Homo sapiens: one gene and its partners. Changing the gene in region 2 together with the main gene of any one other region gives a genetic interaction. Each region holds a gene or a part of one and is shown on either strand. Other genes may lie near its edges.

Region 1 (2,790 bases), on a different chromosome or scaffold from region 2:
ATTTCCTATCAATCACAGATAGTTATCAGCAGTCTTCGTGAAGTCTTCCAACTAATATTTCATTAAAGAAATGAAGTGGGAGCTGCATTTACAGATGAGGCTCGTGCTTTAGCCATTCTCCGAACCAGTGCTTCTTGTCTTTTTCTCTGAATTTCTTCAGGAGAACACTTTCTATTTTTCTCTTCTTCCTCTAAAAATTCAACAAAAGATGAGTTTTACTTTTATAGCCTATAAAGTCATTCAATATGTGCTTTAATTTTTGCTTTTTTTAATCACCCAGATTTGCCATATTAGTTGGCTATTAAATCAAACTAAACTACTGAATATAAAATTCTAAGTACATAATACAGATATAATGCTCCAGTTCAAAAGAAAATCAAGCACTGATGGATCTGTCTCTATTTGATACATTCTTTTCACAGTGTGATAAAATTCAGTTTGATAGAAAACTGACTACCCACCAAATAATTCTTGTGGACAATGACATCTAATTTATATGACCCACGAATAAATATATCTTTAAAAAGGATACATTGGGATTTAAAATGTTATGTAAACTTTAATTGGAAAATAGTCAAAATATAAGGAATTAAATTAGTTATCAATCTCAAACAGTGTATATTTACATAAGATGTTATATTAATATTCACATCTACTTTTCCCTATAGAGCTATAAAATTTTCATTTCATCCACTGAGGAAATATATTTTAGAGTGATAAAATGAAATCTGTCATGTCAAACTGGTTACCTGTGATTCACTGTCAGAAATTATATTTTTATTTGGAGGATGCATTTTGGAGAAACTTTAAAATAATCTCAATTAACTTAGTAAGTTGAGGCTTTGTATTAGAAATCACTTTCTCATTTAAATGATATTTTAAGTTTAAGACTATCACCCTAATACATATTTAAGTATATCATTTATTCTGACATTTAGAAAAAGATACACAATTTATGAGACATTTCTCTTGTTAACTAACAGAGGCATTTTCAAAATATATAATCTGCCTCCCTTTCCTTTCTTGGTATAATCAGAAATGGGAGGGGGTATTCAGGCTAAGAAATACATATTTTAAATAAGTTTCCCAGATGATTTTGATGGCTTTTATTTCCTAAGCTATTTACCTAACAGACTGTAGATATTTTTTCCTAAAGAGAGACACCAGAAGATACTTTCTAATTAGCTTGACTAATTATCTAATACTTTTAGTCTCAAAGCTGAGAAACACAACAAACTCAGACTACACATCCAAAGACTTTACACTGAATTTGACTGTGTGGAAAGAAAACAGGTTAATAATCTGTAACAGCAGAAAACATAACTTCCTAAAGTTGGTCTTACAATTTGCTTGGCAATATTATAGAAAATAATTTCAAATGATAATCAGGTCACACCATGAAAATTTGATTTAGGGACTCATCCATTTTTCCCATCAGTCTTTCCTTTAACTCAATCTATAATAAAAATACACAATGAAGTCTTAAAATATTGTAAAGTACTAAGCAAAAGCTGCTCTTCTTAATCTTGATCTTACAGTGCAAGGGTCAGTAATTTTTTTTTTTCCTGTAAAGAAAGAGTCAGAAAGCAAGAATGTTAACCTTTGAGTATCTTGTTGCAACTGCTCACCTGTACCACTGTAGCAAAAATAGTTATGGATAATGTATAAATAACTGATGAGCTGTATTCAAATAAAACCTGTTTATGGACAATGAAATCTGGATTTCATATAATTTTCAAATGTCATGAAATATTATTCTCCTTTTAATTTTTTTCCAACCATTTAAAATGTAAAAATCATTTTTAGTGTGCTGGCTATACATAAACAAGCTGCAGGCTGGATTTGGACAGATCATAGTTTGCCAACTCCTGCCTGAAATAAATGTGGGAGTTAAGTGAGTTTTGTTTCAGAGATACTTCCCTGGAGAGCAGCTTGCTACATACCAAAGTAAAAGGAAGTAGAAACAATAGAAAACATCAACAAAGTTAATAGTAATTAAGAGATTCAGTACTATCAATAAGTTTAAAGAAAATATTGATAAGGTAAGCTAAAACGCAGATTATCCATAAAAAATGCAGATAGATTGGTAGATAGGAGTTTTGGGAAAACTCAAATACTCCAGGAGGTTTAGTCTTTTATAGAATTATAACTATAGTTGACCCTTGAACAACATGGGCTTGAACTGGCAAGTCCACTCATTTGTAGGTTGTTTTCTGCATCTGACACCCCTGAGACAGCAAGACCAACTCCTACTCTTCTTCCTTCTCGGCCTACTAGACATGAAGATCATGAGGATGAAGACCTTTATGATGATCCACTTTCACTTAATGAATAGTAAATATTATTTTCTCTTCCTTATTTTCTTAATAACACTTTTCCAGCTTATTGTAAGAATACAGTATATAATACATATAAGAGCATACAAAATATGTATTAATTAATTATGTTATCGGAAAGGTTTCTGGTCAACAGCAGGCTATTAGCAGTTAAGTTTTTAGGGGATCAAAAGTTATACACAGACTTTCGACTGCAAATCAGATCAGCGCCTCTAACCCCCACACTGTTCAAGGGTCAACTCTATCTGTAAATAAAGTCATGCTAGGAACATGCTTGATTTAGTTACAATATGCTCACTTTAATACAAATTTAAATACTTAAAATTATTATAGATTGAGAACAATTTTTAATATTTCAAAATATCTAGTTTGGGCTATCATGTAAAGCAAGCTTGTCCAACCCGCAGCCCGCAAGCTACCCGCAGCCCAGGATGGCTTTGAATGCAGCCCAACA
Region 2 (3,662 bases):
GCCAAAATCTCTTTAGTACTAAGTGAGTCATCAGCTCTAGTTTTTACCTTAACCAGTTCAACATACTGATGTATAAGATGTCAAGCATTAAGGAACATAGATCGCATTCACTTTGAGTGCCTGCTATGTGCCAGTCACCATATATGGTGGTGCTGTTATAAAATGTTAAGATATAAATGCTTGAAATGGTTCTGACCGATTTTTTTTTAAAAAAAGCAATAGTATAAAAAAGACAACACTGTCACATATTTATTGACTACAGCAAATTTAATTTCAAACCCCAAATACAGCAGAATATAAAATTACCTAATATAGGAGACTTGGCTATACAATAACTCACAGAAAAAAGGTAGCTTCAGTTGTGACTGCTAGTTTAATAAGTTAGCAAAGTATGGCTGCCAAAAAAGTAAGTTGCTTTAACGACAAAACAATACCAATTCAATCTGCCCTTACAAAAACAGTTTTCAGTGTTACTGTACACTCCCAGCAGTAGTAGAAAAACTTGGAAACTGATATTTAGGTATGTAGCATGATTTGAAAAGAAATTAGAAAGCATCCAAGAAGGTGAAAAACAGGTGTAAAATTTTAAAAACACTCGAATTATGGCAGCATCTGCCTAAGTTGTTTCTTTTTCTCCCTTAAGTGATTCTACTCAATAAAGTTTGGGAAATGCTACTGCTACAGTCTCTCTCCATGAGATTCAAGTGCAGTATATACACATATGAAACTTTTATACAATGCCTTGCCTTTTGAAAAAGCTTTTTTGTACTTACTGAACTCATAAAATCAAAAAACAATTAATGGTGAAATAGTGTTAATTATTACAACTTCACCTGGGATATTCATGCGGAGACCGGAAAACTTGTTACATATAACGTAACAGATACCTATTAAGAGACCAGAATTGATCTACAGATCTTTCGAAGATTATATAATTTTAGACTGTCATTAGGTAGAAACAACCTATCATGGTTACATAAAACATGACTGAAGATTTGTCTAAAAATTAACCCAGGAAAGCAAAATCAGAATTTTCCTAGAGTGGAAACCTCAGGATTCAAAAGCTCTATTAAGTTTAGGTATATCATACCATTCTTGGTAAAAAGGCCGCAAGTTAGTGTGAGATGTCCAAGTGGTTTGGGATTGAAAAATACAGAAGTCTATTAAAATAAATTTTGCTATTATAAGATGAGATGAAGGTAACTCATTAGGCAAATAATGCCTACTCACCACAATTTGAATTTTAACAACTTCTCACAAAGTATCTTTAATCAACACCACTAAAAGAACAAAAATTATAAAAGTAACTTTATTGCTTCCCCATCTCTTACCAAAAAGCTGCCATAATAAAAATACTCAGATAAGTAGATCTAAGAATGAAGCTTTATTAGACAATGAGAACAGCTTATTTCACTAGAAATATTTACCTTTAGAAATTGTTAAAGCAGGCGACCACTGTGATCTTAGAATATCGAGACAAATGCTGCCATTACTGTTAATATTTGGATGATAAATTCTTGTTGTAAATGCAACCTAAAACAAAAACTTTTAAGTATTTTATTCAAATAAAAACAAACATCTTTTAAAGCAAAACTTAAAATAATCAAGCCACAATGTTAAAAATGTCATCTATTAGCATAGAAGTTCTAAATATTATAGAAACTGATTTTTACAATCTGACCACAACCCCCTGCCTCCTCTTTTTACAACAGAAACCTAAACTTTTGGATAAAAATTTCATTACTCATATGATGTAAAGTTCTAAAGGTTACTGTGGCCCTACCATATCATGAATCAAAGGGCAATTTAAAGGTATTTAACACATTCATTTATAAAAGCCCTAACTTTTGGATGTAACCAAAATTTGTAGACCATCTCATTTAAAGTTTCATTAAGTTACACAGGTACACCTGAGTCTGCATTTCCACCGTACATAAAACATAAACTTGAATCACAAAAATGGAAACCATCACATTGCACCTATAACATTACTAGAGATTGTTATAGTGACATGTTTATGACCTTTGTATATTACCTTTTCTAGTTATTCATACAGGTTGAATTTATGTTAATGACTGAAAAGTGAAGGATAATATGCTTTTAATACCTATAAACCAGTGCACTAAGCAACTCTAAGTTTTCACAAATTTACACTTACGTATACAAAACTATAAGCATAATAAGCATATGCTGTAACAATACGTGCAAATATAAATTGAAGTTGGACATTTGATGCTTACAAGACAACAAAAGCCCAAAAATCAGAATCTGTGTAACAATAATACAGATGAGGGCGGAAGCTTCCACATGGTCTGAATCTTGCAACATTAAAGAAAAGGCAAACCTTATTCCTATTTACAAAGCTCAAACTGAGGTCTAGCTCTTTAAACCAAAGGTTAAGAGTCAGCATCTATACATGAGTGCAATTCAACATATATATACAGCCTACACAGAACCCTATCTTCCAAGAATGCTCTATTCCTTTGAAATAAAGCATAAATCTATACTAACAGATTTTGAGGGAAAATACTTGCCTTAGGTGGTTTGAAGGGGTAGTCTGTAGGAAAATGAATTGTCAAAAAGAATACACCGCCTTGATATGGGCTGTCATTCTGTAAAAAGAAAAGTATGCTTAACTCAAATTTAAAATATTATTGCTAAATATTCCGTAACATTTGTTTCCAAGCATTTCTCTAATAATGAACCCAAATCACCTATTTACACTGCAATAAATAATCTATTCCATGAAAATTCAGTCTATAGTAATAGAAAAAAACTTAAAACTTATACAGTAATAAACCCTAATTTATCTAGTCATTTTACACGTCACCAAAATGTTTTTTTAAAAAGTTATCCAGAAACGCAAGTATTCTAGATCTCAATTCTCAAAAGTACAACACAGCAATAAAGCCTACATAATCATGTTTCAGAATAATCTGTAAACAAAATTTTACACATGTAGATTATTTCTTCCAATAGCCAGATGTGTACAAATGGCTTCACAACAGTCCATTCTGCCCACTGGCAAACCAAATGTTAGCTATTCCAGGTAACACACACACACCACCTTCAAGAGGAGAACAGAGAAAAGCCTAAGCTTCTCATTTTAATCAATACCAGAAAATACATGCATTGCCCCTATTTTATGCATGAGAAAAATGAGGCTTAAAGAACTTAGTCTAGTGTACAAATGGTAAATGATAGAACCAAGATTCAAACACAAGTCTTTTGAAGACCACTTAATGATCAAAGATACTGACCTACTCAGGAATTTAAAGTTAAAATGTGGAATGCCTAACTGCTTCTGGGTATGCAAAGAACCAATCCGAAGACATGTTTTACAACTTACATGAACTGGGTTTTTACCAACACTGACTCCCCTCTATTAGAAAGGCTTTGTATATACAGCTATATATGAGCCTTTCACTATGCCCATTCTGGATGTCAGGCACATAAAAAACAGGCCTGACACTAACACAGCTCATCTAATTCCTACCCTTCTGTAAAATAAATAAACATTAATTCAATTAATCTAACCCCTTGCTATATACTGTATGTGTGTTAAGGGATCCAAAGAACAATTTTTTTTATCTTGATGAGCTTACACTGATAGACATGTAAAGTAACTGCAATGAAATGTTATAGGTATCATGAAATATGAA
Region 3 (3,662 bases), on a different chromosome or scaffold from region 2:
TAAAAGGTCTATCTTCCCTCTTGAAAACATGAAATAAGTGTCTTGGTTTTAAGAGAAAAAGAATGTTCTCTACTAATGAAGGTGCCAAAGAGGGGAGATAATCTTTTATGTTCTGAATATATTTAGTAAGGAAAAGCAGCTGACCAGGTCTCCTCAAATAACCTGCAAGACAGACTAGACTGGAGAAAGAAAGAAAATCTCAATAACTTTAGAAATAGGCAATTTTAAACAATGCCTACCTCCTTCCTGCCTAGCACAGGCAAGTCTTTCATTTACAAATACAATGCTATGGCCTAAAGTAGAATCTGTATTTATGAAGATGAAGATGCCTCCAAATAAAGGAAGATCCAAAAGAAATGAAGCTGGGAAGGGGTCACATATGTGACTTCAGTCCAACATACTGTCAAATGTACTCACAACTGAAGTTGATAGGTTGCTAACCCTTTTTCACTCTTTGCTACCAGACTTTCCCCTCTCTCAAAGAGAAATTCTCTTACACTTTAAACAAAAAGTGTCAAGAGATTATACTTCAGGTAAGTTAATTTGCAGACCATCAGGGTTGGAAAAATGATAAAGCATACCTTATTCTTGGGGTCTAATCAAATCTCAATCCTGACTGTGCATCAATGTGTTGAGCTTTTTCTAGGGGGGAAAAAAAAAAAAGGGCCAGGCATGGTGGCTCACACCTGTAATCCCAGCACTTTGGGAGGCCAAGGCAGGCAGATCACCTGAGGTCAGGAGTTCGAGACCAGCCTGGCCAACATGGTGAAATTCCGTCTCTACTAAAAACACAAAAATTAGCCCGGTGTGGTGGTGGGTGCCTATAATCCCACCTACTTGGAAGGCTGAGGCAGGAGAATTGCTTGAACCTTGGAGGCCGAGATTGCAGTGAGCCGAGATCGCGCTATTGCACTCCAGCCTGGGCAAGAAGAGCAAAACTCTATCTCAAAAAAAAAAAAAAAAAAAGAGAGATGGCAGCAATCCATCCTAGATATGCTAAATATTAGTATCTCCAAGGAAGGAGTCAAAAAAACTTCTGATTCTGTTTTATTTTGGAACTAACACAGGTTATTCTGTTGCACAGTCAAGGTTGAATATCACCATCCTAAGCTGCAGGCAGAGATCTACATGAGGAATCTCTTATTAATGATGATGATGATGATGATGACGATGATATGGTAACACAAAACCTCTTGTATTCACTCAGGCAAAGCTCCACAATCAGATGACCATGTTTACCCAAGCAGGCAGGAATCAGGTGTAACTAACACTTTCTGCAGCTCTCATGAAGACATGCAGTTTTGTGTAGGAAATAGATTTTCCCTTTTCTTACCTATGACACCAAAGGGTTTCATGTCCTGGGTAGGAATCAATAAGATCAGTGCTGAATTCAACTTCTTCTTCTAGAAGATGGGGAAGATTAATCCTTGGTTCTTCTGTTGAAACTGCTGCTTCTTCATCTTTTGGAGGAACTAGGGCTGGCTCACTTCTCAAAGGATTTTGCTCCATCACAGAACTGTCTATCACAGTTTGGCTAATCAAAGACTTAAGCAAAAACTGGCGGTAGTGAAATCCACTGTGGTCTGAAACGTGCATAGATGCCCAATGTTTAGTAGAAGATAGTTCATCAAGAAGAATCTTTTAAGAAGAAAAAAGGGAAGTAAGAAGAAGAGTTCCCAAAGGTTCTTCTTTCTCCATTATTGCCTCTGATTTCTCTTTGATTTGTTCCTTTTTTGACAAGACCATTCTTACCAATATTTTGTACACAATGTCTAGCACAGTGCTCTCACTTAGTGGAAGCTTAATACATGCGAATTTTCTCTTTCCCATATAAAAGTGATAGATTTTTTTTTAAGACTAAAGAATTTAAGGACTCATTTGTCATCCTTTCCCTAGACCTTGACTACTCACATTCTGATTGGTACACACAGAGAAGGAAAATAAAATTCTAAAATAATGATGAGCATTAGGGTATTCATTTACAAGTAATGCTGACGTAAAAGCAAAAATATAAACTCAGATTACTTTGATATAAACTTTATTTTACATTTAATAAATGTGTATAATATGTAACTTATTATCTCTACAATAGGCTCAGTGAAATTATTTGTTCTTCAATATAAATGTCATGAGGGCAGAGACCGTGTCTGTCTTGCTCACTACTTAATTATAAGGGATTAGTAGAAAAACATGATGCACTAATAATAAGATTTTTTCAAGAGCTCGTGACTTTAACTGTCTCAAACTTACTTAACAGTAATAATAAATGGGTTTTAAAATAACTGAAAATTCAGCAGCAAATTGTTTAAATCTTTGTGATACCAATATCTTGCAAACTAAAGAATTTCAAATGAAATGATTTTTTAAAAAGCAGCACCTATGCAAAAATAATTTATTTGAGAGTGTCTTGGACAGGTCGCAAACATAAATCAGTGAAAGGTATATCAAGTGCCTACCACGTTCCGTCAGAGGATTTTCAGACCAGCTAAGGAAAAAAGACATACATTTGTGAACAGTTAACAATACAGACAGCATAATGCTGAATGACACCTTTACCTGTTTGTCAAAGGTCCCAGGCAAATGCCTTCTCCTGTACCATGATCTTTTTTCCATTTCTTACACCATTTTTCTTCCGCGGGAATCTTTCCTTTTGCTGAACCCCCATAGTACTTATGTATTCCATCACATTTATTAAAGAATTTCAGTGCATCTCTTCATTCTCATTAAACTCAGTGAGTGAGGGCTTTAAGATATTTATTCATTCCTATCTGATACTTCAATCCCCCTATACCTACTGACATCAAAGTGGATACATAAATATTTTATGAAATGAATGAACAATTTAATAAATAAGGCAAATAGTAAGATTACTTCCAGCCAAGATAGTCAAGTTGTATCAGTGATATGTTTTAAACATCTCCTTTAAGTTCCAATGAGTTTATTCATAGCCACCTAAATTTATTCCAGAGGCTATAGCTGGCAAGTATCTGAGAAATGGAAAACAGTATCTTTATTTGATTTTAAAAGGTGAAGAAAAATAGCACCAGATAAACTCCTACCTGAAATAAAAATCAATCTTACATTTATTACATTTTTGAAAAATAAACCTGTAGAACATTCTGGCTATAATACAGCAGCTTTTTTATTTTGGCATGGCTTCTTAACATGGATTGAAAAGAGTACTCCACTTATTTAAAATGAACTTATATAATATGAAAACATTTAGATTATTTCTAACTGGATATTTCTATGTATAAAATTGCAGTTTATTATTTAATTTTGAGGCAAAAATAGCACACATATAAAAGATGTTCTGGCTGTGCGTGGTGGCTCATACCTGTAATCCCAGCACTTTGGGAGGCTGGGGCGGACGGATCACCTGAGGTCAGGAGTTGGAGACCAGCCTGGCCAAAATGGTGAGACCCTGTCTCTACTAAAAATACAAAAATTTGCAGGGCGTGGTGGTGCATGCCTGTAGTCCCAGCTACTTGGGAGGCTGAGGCAGGAGAATAACTCGAACCTGGGAGGTATAGGTTGCAGTGAGCCGAGATTGCTCCACTATACTCCAGCCTGGGCGACAAAACAAGACTCCATCTCAAAAAAGAAAAAAAATATATATATATATTTTCAACAAAATCAATTTCTTAAAAAAATTCTTAGGC

Evidence for each region.
Region 1: changes in UBE2D3 (region 2) and ETAA1 are lethal when combined (synthetic lethality), as found in Homo sapiens cells (one large-scale study listed by BioGRID).
Region 3: changes in UBE2D3 (region 2) and PTAR1 are lethal when combined (synthetic lethality), as found in Homo sapiens cells (one study listed by BioGRID).

What each region holds. Positions count from the first base shown.
Region 1 is NC_000002.12:67,407,311-67,410,100, reverse strand, and holds part of ETAA1 (ewing's tumor-associated antigen 1), read right to left. Parts: intron 191-2,790; coding exon 63-190; 3' UTR 1-62. UniProt on the Homo sapiens protein: Replication stress response protein that accumulates at DNA damage sites and promotes replication fork progression and integrity.
Region 2 is NC_000004.12:102,800,027-102,803,688, forward strand, and holds part of UBE2D3 (ubiquitin-conjugating enzyme E2 D3), read right to left. Parts: intron 2,613-3,662; coding exon 2,535-2,612; intron 1,534-2,534; coding exon 1,428-1,533; intron 1-1,427. UniProt on the Homo sapiens protein: Accepts ubiquitin from the E1 complex and catalyzes its covalent attachment to other proteins. In vitro catalyzes 'Lys-11'-, as well as 'Lys-48'-linked polyubiquitination.
Region 3 is NC_000009.12:69,721,993-69,725,654, forward strand, and holds part of PTAR1 (protein prenyltransferase alpha subunit repeat-containing protein 1), read right to left. Parts: intron 1,639-3,662; coding exon 1,334-1,638; intron 1-1,333.